Linked DNA regions of Homo sapiens. The protein of the gene in region 1 interacts with the protein of each later gene in a pairwise test. Each region holds a gene or a part of one and is shown in the gene's direction. Other genes may lie near its edges. The genes, in order: CCT6B, MMACHC, LOXL4 and RPE65.

Region 1 (7,037 bases):
TTTAGACAGTTAATTTTGTTTTAATTAATTAATTAATTAATTTTGAGATGGAGTCTCACTGTGTCGCCCAGGCTGGAGTGCAGTGGCAGAATCTTGGCTCACTGCAACCTCCGCCTCCCAGGTTCAATCAATTCTCCTGCTTCAGCTTCCCGAGTAGCTGGGATTACAGGCATGCGCCATCATGCCTGGCTAATGTTTGTATTTTTTTTAGAGACAGGGTTTCACCATCATGGCCAGCCTGGTCTTGAGCTCCTGACCTCAGGTGATCCACCTGCCTGGGCCTCCCAGAGTGCTGGGATTACAGGCATGAGCCACCGTGCCTGGTCTAGACAGTTAATTTTAATTAAGATATTCTTGGACAATTATAAATGGAAATAATAATGAACTTTGTTGGCCAAAATAATGCCTTTCGTTGGAATTATATACCTCTTTTAAAAATGAAATATTTAACGGACCTAAAAAAGTAAAAAATTACCCATGTATCCATGGGTAATTAAGAAAGAAAACACCATAGATAAAGTTGAAACCAAATTATGCACCTTTATAAAACCACTGGAGAAAAATTATTGAAGGTTTTACTTATTGTGAATTTACCTTCCTTTCTAGTTTCATTTTCTTTATAAATCATCTACTTCAGCCAGACTCCTCCGTTCACTGGCCTCTGAAAACATCATGTACATTTTTACCTTTCTCTAATTAAGTATCTCTTTTCTCCATATCTGAATGTTTTCTCTCTTTCAGGGACCATTTCAGCAAAGAGTAACCTAGTCAAAATGATTCTCTGTGTTTCGTTTAGTATTGGGAATTTTCTATTAATTCAGTACTTGCAACTTAGGATGCTTTTGGCTGTAAACAACTTGACTAAAACTCACTTGAACAATAAGGAAATGATTATCTCCCATAATAGAAAATTGAGAGATAAGGGAGACTGTCAGGTTGTGTGATAACAAAATTCAGTCATCAAGTACACAGGTTCTTTGTCTCTTACCTCTTCCACTCACAGTGCTGTTTCATCCTAAGAGTATTTCCATCTTGAAAGTAAGAGGCCAGGTGCGGTGGCTCACACCTGTAATCCCAGCACTTTGGGAGGCCGAGGCAGGTGGATCACCTGAGGTCGGGAGTTCGAGACCAGCCTGACCAACGTGGAGAAACCCTGTCTCTGCTAAAAATACAAAATTAGCCAGGCGTGTTGGTGCACGCCTGTGATCCCAGCTACTCAGGAGGCTGAGGCAGGAGAATTGCTTGAACCCAGGAGGTGGAGATTGCAGTGAGCCAAGATTGTGCCATCATACTCTAGCCTGGGCAACAAGAGTGAAACTCCATCTCAAAAAAAAAAAAAAAAAATGGAAAGAAAAAGGAAAGAAAAAGAAAGTAAGACTGGCTGGGCACAGTGGCTCATGCTTGTAATCCCAGCACTTTGGGAGGCTGAGGCAGGAGGATCACTTGAGCCCAGGAATTTGAGACCAGCCTGGGCAACATAGTGAGACCCTGTCTTTAGAAATAATAAAAAAAAATTAGGCTTGGTGGCATGCTGCATGTGGTCCTGGCTACTTGGGAGGCTGAGGCAGGAGGATTGCCTGAACCCAGGAGGTGGAGGCCGCAGTAAGCCATGATTGCACCAGTGTACTCCAGCCTGGGTGACAGAGTGAGACCCAGTCTCTAAAAGAAAGAGAGAGAGAGAAGAGAGGAGAGAGGAGAGAGAGGACAGAGGAGAGCGAAGAAAGACTGTCAGAGGAAATTAGGCAGAGGGCAAGATAAAGCCATTCAGGAGGCTTTTCTTTAGTATGATTGGGCCAACTTTAGTATTATGTCCATCCCAAGCCAGTAACAGTTTTTATGGGAATTGACTTAGACTAATCAGGATCCACTCCTTGAGCTGGGGATAAGATCAGCTTTCTCCAAAGCACAAGTGGGAGAGGGAAACCCAAACTGAATTAGGGTTGGGTTAGGAAGAAAGGAGTTTGGCAAGGGTGAGATGCTAACAGACATTATGAAACTCTGTGGTGGTGCAGTGATAGAGCCGGGCACAGTATATGATGGAATCACTGAGGCTGGAGGGACGTCCTAAACTAGCCTGAAGTAGTCAGGAAGAACTCTCTGGAGGAAGTAAGGCCTGGCCTAAATCTTCAGGATGAGGAGGAGTGAACCAGACAAAAGAGCAAGGGGTGAGGAGAATGGCTTTCCAGGCAGAAGGAACAACATAAGCAAAGTCACAGAGAAGACAAGCAACATGGTGTTGTATGAAGCTACAAGCATTTTGGTGTTGCTGGAATTTCAGGTGATGTGAACAGTAGTGGAGAAGAGGCTGGAGAGGGAAGTGGGAGCCAGATCAGAGGGCATGTAGTATGCTAACCAAGAAGCTTAGATTTCATCCAGTGGTATTACAGACCAAACATAGAAACATACTAATGACTGATATGGTCAGGTTGGCATTTTAAGTATTTGGGGGATGGTTTTAAGGGAGTCTAGACCAGAGGTTTTCATGATAGTCTGGATGAGAGATTGTGGGGTCCTAGCTTGAAGACATTTTTGAAAATGGTTAATAACATAGGCTCTAAAGTCAGGTCTCATGGGTTTAAACAACCTGGTTTCACTTCTTATTATCTTGGTGATCTAAGGCAAATTACATTATCCCTTTAAGCCTCGGTCTTCTCATCTGTGAAATAGGAAAAATAATAATAATAATACCCACTTCATGATGTGGCTAGAGAATTAAATAACTTGTGTAAAACTCTTAGTCATGTCCAGCACAAATACTCAATGTCAACTTTTAAAGATTATTAAGGATTGATGTAAAGAAAAGTAGTAAGGGAATGAATTAGACCAAGTGCTAGCTTTCACAAAGTTTGTGTATTATTTTATGGAACAAAAAATACTATTAAAATATTTTTTCATAATTTTAGACCTATAGAAAAGTTGCAAACATACTACAAAGAATTCCTGTATACTTTTTACCCAGATTCTTCAAGCATTTTCATTTCTCTCATTGCCTGCTTGCCCTGTTCTCTTCCTTAGTATCAGTGTACTTATTCTTTTCTAAACTGTATGTTGCAGACATGATCTAAATATTTCAGTGTATATTTCTTAAAACCAGGGAATTATATAATTGCAGTATAGTTATAAAAACCAGGAAATTAATAATAACATTAACACATTGATACATTACTGTTATCTAATCTGCATTCTATTCAAACTTCACCACTTATATTAATAGTGCTCTTTATAGAAAAAAAAGATCTAAGTTCATGCATTGCACTCAGTTGTCGTGTTCCTTTAGTATCCTTTAAGCTAGACTAGTTCCTGAGCTGCCTTTTATGCTTCATGATATTGCTACTTTTAAGCCATTTATTTTGTAGAAAGTCCCTCAGTGTGGATTTGCCTATTTCCTCAATTAAACTTAGGTTACAGATTGTTGGCCAAAATACCATAGAACTGTTGTGTTCTACTGAATGCATCATGTCAGCAGGCATGTGATGCCTGTCTGTCTCATTATTGTGATGTTAACTTTGATCACTTGGTGAAGTGGTAGACACCACAGTGTTCTATCTGCCACTTTTCCCCAATTCAGTGGTGGTTCTTTTCCTCTGCATTGAAAGGAATCTTTTTATGTGTGCCCATTCAGAAGGGCACCACATAACAACAATGTAGTCATAATTTTTGGAAATAAAAAGGACTTCTGTAATTTTTAATACTAGACTTGAAGCCTTACTGTTAAGGTTGAGATTATTTCAAGTATGAAGCACTAAAATGACTTTTATAAATTATGTACACTTATATTTCATGGCATTAATGTGAGTAACTTTTTTTGAACATAATAATCAGACAGGTTGGTTACTTTTACATTGGGTGACTTATTTTATAATTTATAATTTTATGTTGATGTAACAGGGCCTGCACCCTAGAATAATAGCTGAAGGATTTGAAGCTGCAAAGATAAAAGCACTTGAAGTTTTGGAGGAAGTTAAAGTGACAAAGGAGATGAAAAGAAAAATCCTCTTAGATGTAGCTAGAACATCATTACAAACTAAAGTTCATGCTGAACTGGCTGATGTCTTAACAGAGGTATGTTATTAAACTTTTGCATTCAGAACAAATATAGCCTAATGCATGGTGATATTTTTCTTTTTCTGTAAGATAATCAAGTATTTCATGTGGTTTTTTGGGCATAAAATATGGAAGACAGACAATTATTGTATAGGCCTAACTGTAGATTAGATTTGACTGGTCAGAACAGTATTTGTAATTTTCAGAAGTATCATACTAGGCCTTTTTTTAAACGTGACTTGAAAGGTGGGAGAGGTTTGGCTGCCTGCAGATCATCTCCTGTGGAAGCTCTTGAATAGTATACTGGTCTTTTTAAATCTAGCAGTCCATATTTTATTATGTGAGGTGACACACAAGATAGTTGTTTTAGCAGTGTACCTTGTAGATAAGGTTACCAATATAATGAAATGTGATATGATATATTAATATATTAATATTCACATATTGGAAATGTATGTTTGTTTAGTTTATTTCTTTTATTAATTTATTTGAGACAGAGTCTTACTCTGTCACTCAGGCTGGAGTGCAGTGTCATGATCTCAGCTCACTGCAACCCCCGTCTCCCAGGTTCAAACGATTCTCCTACATCAGCCTCCCGAGTAGCTGGGATTACAGGCGCGTGCCACCACGCCTGGCTAATTTCTGTATTTTTAGTAGAGATGGGGTCTCACTATGTTACCAAAGCTTGTCTTGAACTCCTGACCTCAAATGATACACCCACCTCGGGCTTCCAAAGTGCTGGGATTACAGGCATGAAGTCACCACATCTGGCCAGTGTTTTGTTTATTTCTAAAGGTAGAATATATGTTATATAGGCTGGGCATGGTGGCTCATGCTTGTAATCCCAGCACTTTAGGAGGCCGAGGTGGGGAGACGACCTGAGGTCAGGAGTTTGAGACCAGCCTGGCCAACATGGTGAAATCCTGTCTGTACTCAAAATACAAAAATTAGCTGGGCATGTTAGCAGGCACCTGTAATCCCAGCTACTTGGGAGGCTAAGGCAGGAGAATCACTCTGGGAGGGAGGGGGAGGTTGCAGTGAGCTGACATCATGCCATTGCACTCTAGCCTGGGTGACAGAGTGAAACTTTGTCTCAAAAAAATATATATATATATATATATATATTTTATATAAAGACAAGATTGGCTGGATATTTTGGGAAGGCTTTTATCAGGTGGCAATGATTTGATATCATTATTGTTTTTCAGCTTTGTAATTTCTGAAACTTGAATATATTTGTTTACCAGGAAGAATGATAAATTCTTAGGAAACAAATTCACAAGACATTGACATACAAAGCAGAATACTACCTTAATAATTTACTTTGAGAACTACAAATGCCAAATGTACTGGAATACTTGAGTTGTTTCTGATCGATTCTCCTTACCGTTAAAAAAAAACAACTTGGGAAATCAGATTAAGATCAGACAATTTCTTGATGAGCAGAGTCAGAAGAAAGGCTCTGCTGTGTTTTCTGCTGTTAGAGTACTTGAATGGCCCCAAATCTTCATGCTGCTAGGGCACCCATTCTGTTTTAGAGTTACAGAAACAGTGATATTCTCACTATCCAATGGCCTTTGTCCTATTTCTTATTTGCCTCTAAAATAAAATATTATGTCACCTCAGGCAAAGTTTTCTAAGATACAGTTTTTTCTGCTTTATGTATATTTTAGGGTAGTTATAACTTAGCCCTTAATTTCTGCAGTTATTTATTATTTTTATATCATTTTCTGAGCTAAGCAATAAGACGTGTTGTGCTATGCTTCTTAAATTGTATATCCCTGGTCATATGTGACAGAATAAATGAGACGTAGCTTTCTGGAGTGTCAATTTTACTTTACAATTTTGGGGGAAAACATTATTTTTACATTGAGATAAACATATTATGGGATGACATGGAAACTTTTCACGATAAAACATGAGACTTTAACGTTTCCTGTTATTACAGCCAGCAAATTGGAGCTATTACCTTAGATTACCTTTCCTTCTTTTCCATTAAGGTGTCCTTTGGTGGAAAAGTTTGGATAGTCTTGGTATGATAGAAAGAGTAGTCGCTGGGCAGTTAGGGAGCCCTGAATTCTAGTCCCGGCCCTGTTACTAGCTGTTAGATCTTATTTAAAAACTGTGACTTCTTAAGGTCTTATCTCAGTTGCCTTATCTGTAAAATAAAAGGTTTGGACCTAATGATCTCTGAAGTTTCTTTAGACTCTAAAGTGTCTGTTGGCATTGGCTATTGTTAGCATCCATAGTAAAGTGGCACATATTGGTCTTGCCCTAGGTTTTGAATCCTGAAGGCTTTTATCTCCTTAGTCTGGTGATAGATTGTTTGGGCCCTTGGTTTATTTTAGTAGTCCAAATAACTTAACTGTTCTCATTCATTTCTCTTTCAGGTTGTGGTGGATTCTGTTTTGGCTGTTAGAAGACCAGGTTACCCTATTGATCTCTTCATGGTAGAAATAATGGAGATGAAGCATAAATTAGGAACAGATACAAAGTAAATTACATAAGCTTTGACAACATATGGGTTCTAGAATTTTTTAAAGATATTCTTTTATTAAATTCATTACTTACTTTTATTCAACATAAATATATTCATTCACCATATATTAAGTCACTGCTCTAGGTAATGGGAATGAGAGTAAACAGAACAGAATTTCTTTCCCCAAGAAGTTTATGTTTCTAATTGAAATAGAAAAAAAATCATGTGTGTGATTTTATAGTGGACAGGGAAGACTACTCTGATAAGAACCTGGAGAGCTAAGAGGTCTCTGAAGAAACAAGGGAGCTAGCCATGTGCACATCTGGAATAAGAGGGTTCTAAGCAGAAGGAATGACCTCTGAAAGGGTCCTGAGGCAGAAGTGTGACTAGGTTGTTACAGTGTGCCTGGAGCACAGGGAGAGGAGGTGAGGCAAAAGGGACCAGATTATGGAGTACCATGTTGATTTTGGATTTACTCTTTTAAAACTTTGTATTATAGAAAACTGTGAACATA
Region 2 (3,620 bases), on another chromosome or scaffold:
ACAAGTGGCTGGAATGGTATCACATGATACACAGAAGTATCCTCAGTTCTGAATCTACCTTGGCCTCAAGGGCCCAGGAGAATAACTTTTCCCAGCTGACAGCCTCTCTGAGGACAATGACATATGAATGAGGATCAAAACGAGCTTTGGCCAGGCACTGTGGCGCTCACCTGTAATCCCACCATTTTGGGAGGCTGAGGCGGAGGACCGCCTGAGGCAAGGAATTCAGAACCACTCTGGGCAACATAATGACACTAAAAAAGACTATCTCTAATCAAGGCTAGAACCAAGGGAAGGCTAAGAATTGCCCAGTACTGTGCAACTACGAAAGCCCTACCCAAGGCCACCAGCCTTGTCTTCCTCTTTCCTCTGTCAGTTCAAAAAGAACAGAAACCTCCAGCTCTTTTACATAGCAGGTACCAGGCATTTATCAGAAGAGGCCAAGCTTCTGGTTCCCATGCAGCCCTTTGAATAGTGTGTCTAAACAAAAATAGGTGTCCAAGTAGTCACACTGAGACTTTAACTGGTAACCCAGCCTGTGGCGTCAGTCGCAGTGCTCTGGCCAACACTATAGCAGGGCTTATTCTTCTCCCTCATGTGTAGTGAAACAAAATGTAACACCTTGGGTTCATTCAGTTCCATTCCCTATATCTACCTGTGTCAATATAATTCCCTGATTTGGAGGCAGCTCTCCTCATTTTCCCCAAAACAGGGAAAGCAAGGAGTAAATTCCTCTTAAAATCAAAAGCTAATAATATGCTTCCTAAAATAAAGACTCATCAAGGTCTCAGTTCAAGTTTAATACAAACTACAAAAGATTAATGGGTTGCTCTACTAATACATCATACAAACCAGTAGCCTGCCCACAACGCCAACTCAGGCCATTCCTACCAAAGGAAGAAAGGCTGGTCTCTCCACCCCCTGTAGGAAAGGCCTGCCTTGTAAGACACCACAATTCGGCTGAATCTGAAGTCTTGTGTTTTACTAATGGAAAAAAAAAATACAGAAGAGGTTTTGTTCTCATGGCTGCCCACCGCAGCCTGGCACTAAAACAGCCCAGCGCTCACTTCTGCTTGGAGAAATATTCTTTGCTCTTTTGGACATCAGGCTTGATGGTATCACTGCCAGGTTTCCAGCCAGCTGGGCACACTGCAAGAGAAAGGCACCACTAATTAATAACCTTCTCAATGGTATGCACCACCATTCTCCTATGGACAAAACCAGTTCTGCACCTGAACACTCAGATACCAGGAAACCTACCCCTGCAATCAGTCTTAGATCATTCACCCTTTTAGTATGAGCTAACCATTTTACAAACATATAATCATCACCACAGCCTTAAGATACTATCATGCCTAATTTATTCATGTAGCACTTGAAATTTAAATTTTCCACAAAAAAAGGCAAAGTTTAAATAATTTGCCAACACTCTCTAATCCTTAAGGGGAAAAAAAAGCTAAATAAACGACACACATAGGACTATGTAAACCCTTAACACTAAACTGTTTCTGACAGCCCTTCAGAGCTCTGAAGACAGCAAACTCAGTCTGCCTTCTCAGCATTCTTCTAACTCTACCAAACTGGATAGCCTGAACCTTATAAAGGATCAAGAACTTAACAGAAGCCCCCGCTTGTTTCATTAAGTAACTGCCATCTACCCCTTGGTAAGCAAAAGGCAGAGTTTGAAATTTTTCATAGATTTATACAGAAAGCACAGCCTTCAACCTTTTCCTGACAATGCCTAAGAATGTGCCTCAGGCTAGCCTGAAGAAAATGAGGCAAGGGGACTAATCTCTTATTTTTCTTTTTTTTTTTTTTTTTTTTTTTTTTTGAGATGGAGTCTCCCTCTGTTGCCCAGGCTGGAGTACGGTGGCGCAATCTCCACCTCCGTCTCACTGCAACCTCGGTCTCCCGGGTTCAAGCGATTCTCCTGCATCAGCCTCCCAAATAGCTAGGATTACAGGCGCCCACCACCACACCTGGCTAATTTTTGAGACAGTCTCACATTGTCGCCCAGGCTGGAGTGCAGTGGCGCGATCTCAGCTCACTGCAAGCTCCACCTCCGGGGTTCATGCCATTCTCCTGCCTCAGCCTCCCGAGTAGCTGGGACTATACAAAAATAGTGGGGCGTGGTGGTGGACCCCTGTAGTCCTAGCTACTCAGGAGGCTGAGGCAAGAGAATCACTTGAACCCAGGAGGTGGAGGCTGCAGTGAGCTGAGATCACACCACTGCACTCCAGTCTGGGCGACAAAACAAGACTCTGTCTCAAAAAAAAAAAGTGTTTGGCATTCATTGGCTCTTAAATGGTACCTATTTAAGAGGCTGTACATGTTCCAGTGGGATGGGAAGCAGCAGAGACCAACAGAGTCTGAAGAAGCAAGCTTCTGAGTTATGAAAGCCTGGGTTCAGGAGACTAACCTATATGTAGGTTCCTAGGAAAGTCCAGTTAAAGGGCCTACTTTGCCACTGCTGCCTCCTTCTTAATGCTGAACCTCATCTCCCACAAGGGGGCAGTCTCAGCAGGTGTCAGCTGAGCCATGTGTCATCTGTCCAGGCTAACTGCCCACACATCCTTCTGCAAAGGGTACCTCTTGGTTATCAGTGCTCACTGATCCCTATATAATCAGACTCTAATCCCTGTAAAAAGATTACTTGGTGCTAGCCAAGCTAGCACCTTTGGGTCTTCCCAAACATACACCACTAATCCAGACTCTAATAACTTCATTTCCTTTAAATTACAAGATCAGAGCTGAAATAGGCCTTAGAAAGCTAGTCTGGGCTGGGCGCAATGGCTCAGGGGAGGCGGAGGTTGCAGTGAGCCAAGACTGCGCCACTGCACTCCAGCCTGGGCAACAGAGCAAGACTCCATCTTGCAAAAAATAAATAAATAAATAAAAATATGAACTATATGGATTAACCTCTTCTCTCAATAAAGTTATTTAAAAAATGGCATGCTTTATCTCTAGAGGTGATTCCCAACCATTTTGTTTTGCCCTAATACATCTGTGAGATCATCCTACATTCAGTAAGTTAGATCTTTGGGAGTGACTGATTCTAAATGAGCAGGACAGAAGAGAGGAGTATGTATACTTTGAATAAAAAGCCTTTATATTCTCCTTCCCAAGCTTTTCCATTACCCTCACCCTCACAACACACTGTAATCCAGGGGCTTCAATTTATGAAGAGAGATACCCATTTTCTTATTTGGTAGCTTCTGTTCCTACTATCTTTCCCATTCTACCACTGTGGGGAAAAGAGAGATCAGATTGTTACTGTCTCTGTGTAGAAAGAAGTAGACAGAGGAGACTCCATTTTGTTCTGTACTAAGAAAAATTCTTCTGCCTTGAGATGCTGTTAATCTGTAACCTTATCCCCAACCCTGTGCTCCCTGAAACATGTGCTGTGTCAACTCAGGGTTAAATGGATTAAGGGCTGTGCAAGATATGCTTTGTTAAAACAAATGCTTGAAGGCAGCATGCTCGTTTTAAGAGTCATCACCACTCCCTAATCTCAAGTATCCGGGGACACAAACACTGCGGAAGGCCACAGGGACCTCTGCCTAGGAAACCCAGGTATTGTCCAAGGTTTCTCCCCATGTGATAGTCTGAAATATGGCCTC
Region 3 (7,033 bases), on another chromosome or scaffold:
AACTCCGAGGAGTGGAAAGTTGTGAATGCAAACCTGACCTTCCAGGTCTTTCCAAAGGTATATTTGTCAAGGTGGGAGGCTAGACCATGATTGACTTAACAATGGATTCATTTGGTTGATGGCTTTAAAATACTTGACTCATGGCATAAGGCCTCCCTTGAGTCTTGCCCTGGGCCCTGCAAATGCTGGGGTGGGCCTGTCCAGCTCCAAACTTGATTGACTTATGCGGGGTTTCTGAAGCTTTCACAGAACAGGGGAGAGGGTGACTTTGCCTATCACAAACCCAAACTTCCTAGAATTTCTTTTTAACCAGCTCTGCTCTTCCGCCAAATTTCCTCTCCTTACTGCAACCAGCTCATCTCTCCTTTCTCCCTAGAAACCGTATCCTTGACTAGCCCCTCCAGGCTTCCTAGATCCACCCTCCCCACTTCCCCAACTTCATGATCTTACAAAACCCTCTCAGCTCCCATCCTCTCCCTGAACAAAAGCCCTGTTTCTGGATAAACAGCTCTCAACAAAGGAGGAGCCTGTCCTTGGCCAAAATGGCTTGTTCTCCCCATTTGTCCTACTTTCTGTTATTACAATCTACGTTCCATCAAGCTATGTCTTTGAGTCATCTCTCTCACTAGACAGTGAGCTCCTTGAGGGCAAACACTGTGTCTGGTTTGGCTCTGTGACTCTTCCAGCACCTTCTACTTTGAGAGCATTCATGCAAGTTTTCATGGGAGATATCACGGAGGAGTTGGAATCGGAGTTAGGCCTGAAGGGTAGGTAGAATATGGAAAATGAAGTGAGTAGAGGCAACTGGAGATTCCTTCTCTCCTGTGGGCAGTAGTGAGCAATTAAAGATTCTTGAGCTAGAGCAAGACAACACTTTAGAAAGACTGACGTCAGGAACAGTGAGATGCAGGGAAAAACTGAGAGCAGTTTGGGGGCTGTTGCCACAGCACTGAGTGTTAGAGGAGGCAGGAATGCAACGGCAGGACAAATAGATGCAGGAGGCAGTACCTTAGGCACAGCAAAATAACTTACCCGAGGCCACACAATTCAGAAGCAGAGCTAGAACTCAGGTTGCCCAGTTTTAAAGCTGTACAGTTTCCTCCATACTGAGTCACAGAGGAGATGAGGCTAGAACTGAGTCCTGAAGGCTGCTGAGGAGGAAGTTTGCCAGCAGGCATGGGCACTGGGCACTCCACCAGGGTCACTACTGGGTTCAACCAGGTGCACCCTGGAGGCCACCGCTTTCTGCAGGAGATTCTGGCCTTCCCACTTGGGAGGAAAGTACAGACCCTGACTTAGGCAGGAAGGGAGGGTTGAGAAGCACCCCATGGGGAAGAGATTCATGTTAGCTCCTTTCCCTGGGAGGAGGCAGGGAGAGGTGATGCTTACACATCCAAGTCCCTGGGTACTGGCTGAGGGATCAGGGGAGCTGCGGTAACTCCAGACACCTGCATGGTGCTTCACGGCTTCCACAACATCGTAAAGTGTTATTCCTGACCACTCCACTTTCCCCCCTCTCTACCCAGTGTATCAGATCCACCTTCCAAGGCACTTCTGGGAAGGCTTCAACCCTCAGACTTCCCTGCCCAGCATCCACACAGCCCTGTGCTTTCGCCGTCATTGATCACTTGCTCCCATCTGCAGATAACAGCTGTGTGATGTTGGCCAAGTCACTTAACCCCTTTGTGTCCCAGTTTCATTGTGTAAACAGGAGATGATGAAAGCATTGTCCACCGGTTTTTCGACCCCAGCCAGCCATGATGATGATAATGGTGATGATGCCTTGTCCTGCTGGTTGATTGTGGCTCTGTCTCCCCCACCACTCTGCAAATTCCTTGAGGACAAGATAGGAAGCACCTCTGGCTTGTCTGTATCACCTTGGGGACCAGAAACTGGCACGCACCGCTAGGTCCATTTATTCAATCCGTGAGCACTTCTGGAGCACTTGCTATGTGTCAAGCTCTGTGACAGGATCTGGGTTTAGAGATAAATAAGAAGCTCGGGGGTGGGTGGGGGTGTCCAGAGTTAAGGCAGACACAGACCATTATATAAAGAGTATGGAGAGGGTCACAGGCGCTGGGCTGAGGCCGGGTGAACATAGCCAGGCAGGAGGGAAGAAGAGGGCTTTCTCAATCAAATGAAAGCTGATTGAGATGAATCCAGTGGTCCCATCTGACCCCTACAGCAATCACATTTAAGGATGAGGAGATGACAACTCAGCCGAGAAAATCCCACTGTTAGTACGCCATGGGCTGGGGCTGGGACCAGAGCCCCTCACTTCTCAGGGTTGGGGGCTCACAGCGCATGCCTTAGAGATCCCCACTTCCACTGCTTCCCAGCCTTGGCCTCTGCCCAGAGTTGTGCAAATTAAAGGACTTCCGGGCAACATCCATTCATTCCCTGGTCTCTATCCTCCGCCCGCCCCTGCGCTCCAGGGTATTTTTAGTTCTGGGCAGCCAGGCCTGGTGAGTGATTGGCAGCAGGCAGAGCCCACGTTTCCGAACCCTCTGTGTTGCTTCTGGCTCAGCATGAGAGGTGGCTGGGCCCTAGGAGAGGGCTTAGGCATACCTGGCACCCAAGCCCACAGCTGCCTCATTGTCCCTGGGGGAGGAGCTGGGCTGCTGCCACTGACCCGAGGCTGGGAGCATTCTTTCCTGCTGATTCATCATGGGGAATGTTTTGGGCCCAGCTGGGGTGGGGCAGGGGCACTGGGGGGACATCTTGGACACGGGCAGCCAGGAGTGGATGGCAGGTCCCTGGCAGCAGGGTCATTAAGACCTGGCTGTCACCCAGGATCGAAAAGGTCCATCTTGACATCCTAGCTCTATCACACTCTGCCTGTCCAGGCTTATTCTTACTTGCACATCTGCCTCCCCCACCAGACTGGGAAGGCCCCCTCCAGCGTCTAGCACTCCAGCACCCTGTCTAGCATGTAGGAGAAAATCAATAAAGGCTTGTGGGATGAATGAACCTTTGGAAGGACGTTTAGGCAAGGTGGGGGCAAGAGGGGGAACCAGGTTGGGCAGCTGTGGGCCTAGGGAGGAAACCGGGAGGCTGGAACCCTCTGCCCATTTTACAGATGGGGCCAGTGAGGCTAAGGGCAGGACCAGGTCTAGGGGAAAGAAACTGGGGGCTTGGACTGGGGTTCAGGCACCTAGGTGCTCAGTTCAGCTGATGGGACTCCTCTCTGTCAGCCATGTCCACATTTCTTTAATTCTACAGTCCCTGCTCCCTGCACTAACACCCTCCTCCCGTGAGTCTGACAAGGGCCAGGACTGCATCATTCAGCTCTGTGAAGGGGTTCTCCCATTCACTGTGTATTGCCTGGAGGAGCAAGTTATGTCGCCTGGGGCTCAGTGTTCCCAGCTGCACAATGGGCAGCGCAGAGTTTCACACGGAGGGCGGGGGGGGGGGGGGGGGCGGTATTCAGTAAACTCTGGGTGACTCGCCTGTTCCTGCAGGAGAGCACCGCTGCACCGCGCCACCTCGACCTCTCTGAACTGAGCCCCGGCCTCCCAGAAAGGGCGTCTACATTGTCCTAAGTGACCGAGCTCGTGAGATTCGGCCCCTGTGACAGCCGGGCGCTCCCGTGCGAAGGGTGCTGTGCCGGGGGCCCTGGCACCCACCAGGACTCACAGACTGGGACTCTAGGTGGGCGTCATTACCTTGTTCTGCAAAAGAGGAAACTGCCTGGGAGAGGGACTCCCGAGGCCGCCGCGGCCCTCCCTGCAAAACAGCCGCGGGCCCAGCGCCGCCCTTTCCCGAGAGCTCCGCTCCCCGCGACCCCCCGCCGCCCCCCCGCTCCCCCCGCCCCCCGGGACTTCCCGGCCCCGCCGGCTGCGGCTGGGCGCCCCCGCCACCTGGCCTGTGTCCCGACGGGGGGCGCCGCGCGGAAGGCCGGGCGGGGCGCCCGCGGACTCCAGGCCCGCCCGGGGCGGGGCCTGCGGGGCCTCCTCCGCGGCCAGCTCGGGGCTGGGGGGCCGCGGGCGGGAGGCGGATAAAAAGGCCCCAGGGCGCCCGGGGAGGGAGCCCGTTAGCGCTGCTCCGCCGCGGCGCCCGCCCAGCCCCGGACTGTCCGCGCTCCATCTGGTGAGCCCCCGCCTGGCCGCGCGTCTGCCTCTTGGTCTGCCTCTTGCTGTCCCATCTGTCCTTCTGTCTCTCTGTGAGTCTGCAGGCCTCTGAGGGTTCCTGGAGACTGGGCCTAGGGTGCATGGGGGATCCCTTGGACCCTCAGCCCGGCCCTCCAGTCGCTCACCAACCTGCTTCCAACTGGACAAGTGACCACGCTGGGGAGCTTGGCCCAAGGCCCGCCCTGAGTGGTGCGCCCAGGCCTCAGGGGTGCCTGCGTGTCTTGTTTGTGTACACGCCGTGTGTAACCATTGCTCTGCCTTCTTCCAGGGAGGAGACAGGGAAGGGGCAAGGCGGGTTCAGATGTCACACTTACGACTTGGGGGACAACGAACCAGGGCTGATCTGGGCTCTCCAACTATCCAGACCGGAGCTGATTATGTTGGGGGGTCGGCGTGTGACAGAAACACCGAAGGGAAGGGGGCAGAAGACTTCAAGCCCCCTCTTTCCTAGCCTGGACAGGTACAGCTCAGAGACCATTTGTTGGCACTGCTTCAGGTCCACAGAGTCAGTAACCCCGGGGAGGCTACAGGGCTGAGAGGAGGCTGCTGAGAAGAGCTGCCCAACGGCAGAGAAGGGATGAGCCATCCTAAAGTTGCTGCACCCTCAGGACAGCACCCCCCATGCTCTCTCTTGAATACTCGGGCATTTGCTGTCTTCAGCCCTCCCTACCTGCGCTAGGTCAGGCCAGGTCCCAGCATCTCCTGGCACACCTGGAGCAGGTGCCTCTGTGCCTCAAGCTGGCAAGATCTTGGATCTGTCACTCGGCATTCAGCGAAGAGCACCCTGCCCAGTGCCCTCACACCACGGCCTGGGTCATAAATCCACCAGAACAGGGTGGAATTTCAGTCGGCTCCCGGCCTTCCTTTCCTCCTCCCCCTCTTCCAACATCCATTCTTGGTGGTTTTGAGAGTCCGGCGTCTAGCCAGGCTGCTTGGGTTTGAATCCTGGCTGGGCAAGTTACTTGACTTCCCTGGACCTTACCTTCTCATCTGTAAAATGGAGATAAGTATTTAATCCGTATTTTAAAATGTATAGTTATTATCCTCACTTCCCTCCCCTCCTCTTTCCCTTCCACCTTCCTTCCCTCTTCTGTCCCCTTCTCCTTTATTTGGGAAAGTAACGGCCACTTTCGAGGCCGCTTCCTTCTCTGAGGGAGGATGCACAGCTTGGTCCTCTGTGCTCAGTGCTAGGGGAACAGACAGGTGGAGTCTGGTTGTGGGGTCAGGAAGCAAACACACAATGTGCTTTGTGGAAGGCTTTGTGGGAGGGCTTAATGGAGGGGGTGGCATTTGAGCTGGCCTTGTGGGATGTGTAGGAGTTTAACAGTCTTAGATAGAGGGAAAGGAACAGTGAGAGCAAAGGCTTGGAGGCTGGGAGACGAAGGCTATAGTCTGGTGTGAGCAAAAGCTCTCGGGGGCCTATAGTGGGCAGGAAGGCCAATAAGAGGGACTCTCCCTGCATCTAACTCTTGGTTCCCGCTGCCGTCCCCCCACCTTCCAGCAGCGTTCATGGAAGGGAGCTTCCCTGGCCCAGACCCCAGGGTCCTACAGCAGAAGCCCTCCCATGCCCTCAGGTTGGTCCCTTGGAGAGGAAGGAGCTGCTGGCCTGGGACTGTCCACAGCCTGTAACAAGACCTCCTCAGTGTGTCAGGGACTTCAGCCAGGAGCCAAACAGCAGACCTGCCCAGCCTACCCTGGGCCCCATCAGAGCATGTCGGATAGGGGGGCTGTCTAGTGCCACCCCCTCATTTTACAGGTTTTTCAGCTGAGACTCAGAGAAAGGAAAATATTTGACTCCAGACACAATTTGGCGGCAGAGATAGAAGCATTCCAACTCCTGGGGGTGGTAGAGAAGGTGTGGTTGTCACTCAGCCCAGACCCATGTGACCACTGGGTCCTAATAGCTGAGGGACCTGAGGCCGATCTGTCCCATCCTTTCTTGCCATCTGGGGAGTGGTTTGGCTCAGTCCCTGGCTGTCTACCTCCTACTCCAGGGAGCACGGAGGAGGGAATGGGAAACAATGGAGAGCACTCTGCTCATGGGACAGCCAGCTGGGAGCCCCCACAAGCCTCTGAGTGACATGCAGAAGACAGTGTTTCAGTCTGGAAAGGAAGCGTGGGAGGGGTCAGAGGGGGAGAGCTGCAGAGGTGAGAATGGGAAGGCAGCCCCTGCACAGCCTCAGGGAGTGGAGAGGGGAGCATCTAGGCTCTGCAGTGTGGGTGGAGGGAAAAGGGGCAAATCTAGAGAAGGCTGCAAAGAGGAGTACCAAGGACTTGCAGTTGAGATCGGACGTGGCCTCCATTTCCTTCTTTGTACAGAGAGGAGGTGGGACCAATCTAGACCAACGGTTCTATCGTCGCTGTCACAGTAGCTGTTAATAATAGTTCATTGTTGGCCGATGTAGTGGCTCACGCTGGTAATCCCGTCACTTTGGGAGGCCAAGGCGGGTGGATCACCTGAGGTCAGGAGTTCAAGAACTGATGTGGTGAAACCCTGTCTCTACTAAAAATACAGATAAATTAGCTGGGCATGTTGGCGCATGCCTGTAATCCCAGCTACTTGGGAGGCTAAGGCAAGATAATCACTTGAACCCTGGAGGCGGAGGTTGCAGTGAGTCGAGTTTGTGCCATTGCACTCCAGCCTGGGTGACAAGAGCAAAAATCTGTCTCAAAAATAATAATAATAATAATAATAATAATAATAATAATAATAATAATAGTTCATTGTTACTGAAGGCTTGCTCTTCTAAGGATTTAATGTTTCTTCACTTAATCTTTACAAAAATCCTATGAGGTAGTTACTATTATTATCCCCACTTTACAGAGGGAGACACTGAGGCAGGGAGAAACTAAATCGCTGGCCCAAGATCACTTCCAAATGAACTGGTGGAGGCAGGATTCGA
Region 4 (7,037 bases), on another chromosome or scaffold:
CCCAATCAGGCTGCTGATATACTCTGCCTTACCAAGGACAAGCCTAGCCCAAGGCAGGGATAAGAAGCAATGTTCTGTCTCCCCTTCATCACAGGCAGGATCCCCCTCTGGCTCACCGGCAGTCTCCTTCGATGTGGGCCAGGACTCTTTGAAGTTGGATCTGAGCCATTTTACCACCTGTTTGATGGGCAAGCCCTCCTGCACAAGTTTGACTTTAAAGAAGGACATGTCACATACCACAGAAGGTAAAGCAGCACTCCATGCCACTCCTCCTCCTCAAAGTAGGGCCTAGCTTGGCTCCTCCTCCCATGTGAGTTTTCACCTCTGAACTCAGGAGGCAACCTATATACCCACTTTCTTCTCACAATGTACCTGGGCCAGTGTGTCTGCATGGATACGAGGGAACATTATCATGGAATAAAGGAGAAGCTAAAGCCTAGGGCTTTGGGGTCCAACATGAGTGGCTTTAAACCCTGTATTCAACAGACATGACTTGCCTAGGAGGGTAACCTTGGCAAGATGTTGACCTCCAATTCTTGGTTTTATAATTAGTAAAATGGGAGAAATAATAGAATCTACCTTATATATTCATTACAAGCATTAAATGAGAGCGCAGTGTCTAGCACACACAAAGCACTTCATAATAATAGCTATTGTGATGCTTGTTATTATTATTAAACCATTGGCCATCTTGATTCCTTTTTCTTTTTATAAAATTGGAAAGGCCACTGGGAAAGGGGTCGGGGGCTGCCACAAAGTAGTGAAGGATGAAACATGTCATAGTGCTACCAGAAAGAGAAGTTTTCTGAAAACAAGAGATTATTGCTAAAAAGCCTTGAAGCCCTAAATCATCATTCCAGGAAACCCCCATTAATGAAGTATTAACAAATACTTTGTCTTCTGCTTTCGTGTTCAAGCCTATTAGTGGCTTTGTTGATCACCACAGATTTCAGGCATTTTGAAAAGACCTGTAAAGAAAAAGTGAAAGGGGACTTGAAGCAGGACAACTTGCATGATAATAGAAGAGAAACGGATGATGTCAAGCAGAAATGTAGCCATAAGAGCTTACTGTGGAGTTCAGATAAAGCTTCCTATACCTTCGACAGAGCAGGGTACTCTTTCTTCTTCATAAAAGTGCGACCGGGTGTGGGTGGCTCACATCTGTAATCCCAGCACTTTGGGAGGCCAAGGCGGCCAGATCACTTGAGGTCAGGAGTTTGAGACCAGCCTGGCTAGCATGGTGAAACCCCGTCTCTACTAAAAATACAGAAAAATTAGCCGGGCGTGGTGGTACACGCCTGTAGTCCCAGCTACCTGGGAGGCTGAGGCAAGAGTATAGCTTGAACCCAGGAGGCGGAGGTTGCAGTGAGCCAAGATTGCGCCACTGCACTCCAGCCTGGGCAACAGAGCAAGACTCCATCTCAAATTAATTAATTAATTAATTAATTAAAAGTACAAAATCAGATTTTAACTGGCTCTCCATATCAGAAATCCTGGGCAAAGTATGCTGTCTACTCTAAGATATGGTTTAGCAGACCTGTCTAGGCAAGAGATGGAATTCAAGAATACTTAATTTTTAAAACAAAATAAATGTTAAAATTGAAGAAAAACATAAAAGTAACAGAGGGAGATTGAGAAGAATATAATTCAGCACACCATGTCCGGAATTTTCCCAGTAAGTTTAGGTTGATAGGTTATAGGTGATGGGGGTGGGGGTCCTATGTGAACTTCCCCCAGGGCTGCATGGTGTGATATAGAAAGTTCATGTTGTCCTGCTCTGGCCAACTAGGATTCTAACCCAGCTTGGCCACATATGCCAATCACTTAACTCCTCTGAACCTCAATTTCCTCATCTGTGAGGTTTAAAAGATAAAAACGTAAACTCAAGGGACATTGTGTCTGCCCTGCTTGGTCACCCCAAGAAAGTGAGCTAATAAAACCCTTTATTCTTCATGTTGTGCATTTATGATTGTGACTTGATGAGGACACATAGAATGGCCATTCTAAGCTCCACATGGGCTGTACGGATTGCTCCTGTCTATACTCTTCCCTATGTTTCAATGTCCTTCAGGTTCATCCGCACTGATGCTTACGTACGGGCAATGACTGAGAAAAGGATCGTCATAACAGAATTTGGCACCTGTGCTTTCCCAGATCCCTGCAAGAATATATTTTCCAGGTTACTGAACCCAAACTGAATGTTACTCAAGACATTTTATATTAGCCCTTTTTCTCTCATGGCTTGAAAATTACTGGACTGAAAAATTCATTTGTTTCTACAGGTTTTTTTCTTACTTTCGAGGAGTAGAGGTTACTGACAATGCCCTTGTTAATGTCTACCCAGTGGGGGAAGATTACTACGCTTGCACAGAGACCAACTTTATTACAAAGATTAATCCAGAGACCTTGGAGACAATTAAGCAGGTGGGACACAGTGCTAGGTGATGTTCAGGAATTTAGAATTTGGAACTTAAAATTAATTCAACATAAATTATTCATGCTGCGAATGTATGATTCTAACTTGATGAGGACACACAGAATGACCATTCCAAGCTCCAAATGGACTGCACTGATTGCCTCTGTCTATGATGCTTTCCTGCAATTGGTGTAATTTGGTGAAAAGAACATGAGAGCCACATTAAGTTTCAAATCCTAGCATTGTCAACAATGACTAGCTATTTGACATAGGACAAACATTGTTTCTTCATCTCTAAAATTTTAAACACTTACATGGATTGGAGAGAACCCATATAAAATGCCTAACATATTCATTCATTCATTCATGACACAAATACTTATCAAGTGCTTTCCATATTCAGAATTTATGCTAGATGCAAGGGATAGATCAATGAGTAGGGTAACATGGTCCCTGCCTTTCATAGCTTTTATAAGCTAGCATGAACCTGGTAAATACTGGGTGCTCAAAAAATTATAGCTACTGATACTGAAAATCATGCTATTTATGGTTCTAGGCAAGTATGTTGCACTAATTTGCCCCTTCTTATAGATACTTCTTATTAGAAATAAAGCTATATCTTGAATGAAATAGCATAGAACAAAATTTCAGCAATATTTGGAAGTGACAAATTTTATGGAGAACTTAGGGAATCTCAATGCAGCAGTCCTTAGATACACATTTTGAACCAATATTTACTAAGATACACCTATTTACAAGGCATTGTTCTTGTCTTCAGGTGACTTAATGTCTAGGTGGAGAAATCAAATATGTAACTGTAATAGGACAAAGAATATGACGAGTCTTTTAAGAAGGAAAATCTTTTAAGAAAGCATAAATACGAAAGGAATTACTTCTGGAAGTAGTTGGCAATGCAAGGTGGGACAGGTGAAAGAAGGCTTAAAGGGAAAGGCTTTGGGCTGGAAGTTAAAAGAGAGGGATGATTTCAGTGAATTTAGAGAAAGGATATGCTAGATGGAGGGGGTAAAGCGATCAAAAGCATGGAGGTAGAAGGTGTTCATGAAAACTGGAGAATAATCTCCTTGGACTAGACTTGCAGCATTTCTCAGTGGAGGTATTAGTATGACATTAGGCAGGGGGTGACTCATCATCATGGAGACGTCCCACACATGGGAGAGGTTTGGCATCCCTGGCCTCATCCACTAAACACCAGTCATGTTTTCAATCATTATACAAACCCAAAACGCTCCTGACATTTCCGTATCTTCCCCTAGGGGGCAATAACACTCCCAGTTGAGAACTAGTTGCCTAGAGTAGTTAATGTCAAGGGGAATATTGAGACACAGGGTAGGATGAAATTAAAAGCTTGAATAATTGGCTATACATTTGGAATATGTTGTTTAGCTAATGGGAAGCTACTGAAAGTTTTTGCTCAAAGAAGTAGTATGAGTAGGGCTATATTTTCAGATGTTTATTTGGGGAGCCATGTGTGGGCTGTACGGGAAGGCAAAAGAGATACAGTATAGCTGGGAGACCAAGAGGTGAAACTAAAAGCCAGAACCACAAATGCAGTACTGGTAAAAATAAGAAGAAAAAAAATAGTCTCAACATTGAGTCTCAATAGCACAAGCTGATCTATAATTCTCAACAGACTATTTACTATGTCTTAACATACACTCCCCATAGCTCTTTCTTGTTTATGTTGTGTGTGTGTAACCATATACAAGTGTGTGTGTAGCTCCTTTAGAGAAGAACAAAAGCTGAGTTTCTAAATCATTCATTTGACTTTGATAGGGAATCTGTATTACAATTACATGATATTTTAATTAGAAATATAGAAGCTATGGTATGGCTGCAGAATAGACTTTATTAGGAGTCAGGTTCCACTGTTACTAGCACTGTAAAATGTAATTTTAAAAATGTGAAATTTTTGATTGTTTACTGTTATTAACCAGTGCCTTTGCCTCCAGCCTGATTCCCTTAAATACAATTTATTTAAGGCAGCAGTAGCAATTTTTTAAAATATAAATATGAAAGTATTACTCCACCTAGGGAATCCATAACTTCCCAAATAAAGTCCAAGCGAAGGTCTTTGTGGCTGGCCCACTCTTATTTCGCCTCCTCTACGCATGCCCTTCATGGCAGCCAGGTTAAATGACTAGTAATGGCCAAACAGCACACATTATTTCACAAGTCTATGCATTTACATTAGGATTCCCACTCCCTGGAATACACTGTCATCCTGCTCCACTTGGCTAACTCCACGCACCTTTCAAACATTAGTTGGAGTCATGTTTCTCAGGAAAACTGCCTCATCCCTCAGTCTGGGCTAGATGGCGCTTCTCTACGATGCCATTGCACACTCACAGTGCTTTACACCGGCTTATTGGTCTAATGCAGGGCTGTCCAATAGAACTTTCTGCAATAATGGAAATGCTCTATAACTGTGCTATCCTGGTGTTATTAAGCACTTGAAATGTGGCTAATGTGACTGAGGAGCTGAATTTGAAGTTCTATCTAAAAATTAGTGGTCCTGTATTAATAGAACAGCACGGGTCTAGAATGAAGTTCTTGAAAGCAAAGATCTTCTCTCTCCTGAGCCCTGATACAGTGCCTGGCACATAGTGAAAGCTCAGAGTATTTGATAAATGATTGACTGAATAAATGAATATCTTGCCTATTATTTAAATAAGGTTGCTAAAATGTCCTATGCTTTAAAAAAATCTCCCTAATTAATTGGAAATAATTTTGGTTAGATAAATATATATTCCAGTAATTATTCATTCAATAACTCTTTACCAAGTAGGTCCCAGGTGGAAATCTAGTGCTGATTTATCTAGCTCTTTATCCTTAAACAAGACACTTGATCTCTCTGGAACCCCAATTTATCCTTCTGCAAACAGAGATTTGTGTTACATTTGTAGTTCTAAACTTCTTATGAGACATAAAATTGAATTAAATGCTGTATGCTTTTGCCAGAAATGTTTATATTTAATTAAAAGAGATCCATGGTTCTCCTAAAGTCTATTTAAATTAAGACTTTCTATACTAGATGAAGCTTGAAGTCCCTTTCAGTTCCAAACTCATACAGTACCATGTGCAAGACATATAGTTGGTATTTACATAGTACCATACGAAATTGACATTTTTGGAAATCAGCAATTATTAAATGTTAGCAATCTTATACAATTAAATCTAATACAATAATAAGAGTATAAAGAAGTCTGAGGACTCAAACTTATGGTTTCAGGTCAATCTGCATATGCTAAAAGAAAAGTAACTAACCAGAGCACTGTATGGTATACATCAAATAAAGAGATGTCACAGGTAACTCCAGATTCAGACACATGAGGGGGCATTATGTTCTGCATGAAGGTGGGAACTCAAGGTGAAAGAGGGTAGAATCCAGAGAGATGGGAAGAAAGAGAAGTGCACTTAGGATGAGAGTTCAAGGGGTAGTGATGACCTCAGACCTAGGGACAAAGGTATAATGTATCTTCCTTCTCTCAACTGGAGGACATTCACTTTACTTCCGTAGGTTGATCTTTGCAACTATGTCTCTGTCAATGGGGCCACTGCTCACCCCCACATTGAAAATGATGGAACCGTTTACAATATTGGTAATTGCTTTGGAAAAAATTTTTCAATTGCCTACAACATTGTAAAGATCCCACCACTGCAAGCAGGTGAGTTTACCAATCTGTCCTCTTCTGAAAATAAGTGTCTATATTGTGAGAAAGTTACTGTATTGTGAGAAAGATAAGAATGTCAGAATAGCATTTTGTGCATAGTTAAATTACTCTCAGACTTCAGAAGTACTGCCCTCATCCCTACCCTATAAGGGGCCTAATGCCCAAGGGCATCATATCAAAGGATGACGACTTGAAAATATAGAAAGCAAGTGTCCAAGTTCTCTTCTAGAATATTAAAAATGTAGTACATATATATATATGGATTTGATCATATACAATTAGGATTCAAACTTAGCAAACATTTATTGAGCACTTATTCATGTGCTAGGCAAAATTAAATTAAATAAGCATGTATGTGTGCATAATAGCATACATACATATATGAGAGTGTACTAAATATGTTGCGCTTAATTCCCAAAACTACAAACAAATCTGTTATCTCATAGAAGTACTATAGAAAAAGAACTACAGCAAAAAGAGTGTACCCTAGAATTCTCCATTCATTCTTCATTTATTGCCAGGTTCATTGTTCACCACCTTGATGATGGAATTATTTGAATGTATACAGATTTTTGTTTAGTATTATTTAGTACAGTTCTCAAAGTGTAGTCCTTGGACCAAGACCATCACCTAGGAAACTGTTAGAAATACAAATCTTGAGCCTTGTCCTGGGCAGACTGAATGAGAAATTTTGGGAGTGGAGCCTGCAATCAGTATTTTAAGAAACTCTTTATGTGATTCTGATGCACACTAAAGTTTGAGGACCATTCACTTACTAGTGAGTAAATTTTAATGTGCATAAGAATTACTGTACAGGGCTATTGACACAAACCCATCTAAACTATATCCTTTGGGCATCTTAAGATGTTGCAAAAGGCATTTTGACCATTCTGAGGTTTCTTCCCTACTCCCCTGACTTAAAACCCACC

The links.
Region 2: the proteins of CCT6B (region 1) and MMACHC interact in binary tests that used the Homo sapiens proteins (3 or more experiments, as listed by UniProt).
Region 3: the proteins of CCT6B (region 1) and LOXL4 interact in binary tests that used the Homo sapiens proteins (3 or more experiments, as listed by UniProt).
Region 4: the proteins of CCT6B (region 1) and RPE65 interact in binary tests that used the Homo sapiens proteins (3 or more experiments, as listed by UniProt).

What each region holds. Positions count from the first base shown.
Region 1 is NC_000017.11:34,951,451-34,958,487, reverse strand, and holds part of CCT6B (T-complex protein 1 subunit zeta-2), read left to right. Parts: intron 1-3,888; coding exon 3,889-4,062; intron 4,063-6,434; coding exon 6,435-6,538; intron 6,539-7,037. UniProt on the Homo sapiens protein: Component of the chaperonin-containing T-complex (TRiC), a molecular chaperone complex that assists the folding of proteins upon ATP hydrolysis.
Region 2 is NC_000001.11:45,510,266-45,513,885, forward strand, and holds the end of MMACHC (cyanocobalamin reductase / alkylcobalamin dealkylase), read left to right. Parts: 3' UTR 1-1,063; coding exon of another isoform or gene 1,064-1,149; 3' UTR 1,150-3,117; downstream 3,118-3,620. Other genes in the region: PRDX1 (peroxiredoxin-1), read right to left, coding at 1,064-1,149. UniProt on the Homo sapiens protein: Cobalamin (vitamin B12) cytosolic chaperone that catalyzes the reductive decyanation of cyanocob(III)alamin (cyanocobalamin, CNCbl) to yield cob(II)alamin and cyanide, using FAD or FMN as cofactors and NADPH as cosubstrate.
Region 3 is NC_000010.11:98,265,188-98,272,220, reverse strand, and holds the start of LOXL4 (lysyl oxidase homolog 4 precursor), read left to right. Parts: upstream 1-4,026; 5' UTR 4,027-4,089; intron 4,090-4,398; exon of another isoform or gene 4,399-4,590; intron 4,591-6,844; exon of another isoform or gene 6,845-7,033. UniProt on the Homo sapiens protein: Catalyzes the oxidative deamination of lysine and hydroxylysine residues in collagen and elastin, resulting in the formation of covalent cross-linkages, and the stabilization of collagen and elastin fibers.
Region 4 is NC_000001.11:68,439,918-68,446,954, reverse strand, and holds part of RPE65 (retinoid isomerohydrolase), read left to right. Parts: intron 1-94; coding exon 95-245; intron 246-2,071; coding exon 2,072-2,179; intron 2,180-2,282; coding exon 2,283-2,424; coding exon of another isoform or gene 2,425-2,445; exon of another isoform or gene 2,446-4,507; intron 4,508-5,954; coding exon 5,955-6,102; intron 6,103-7,037.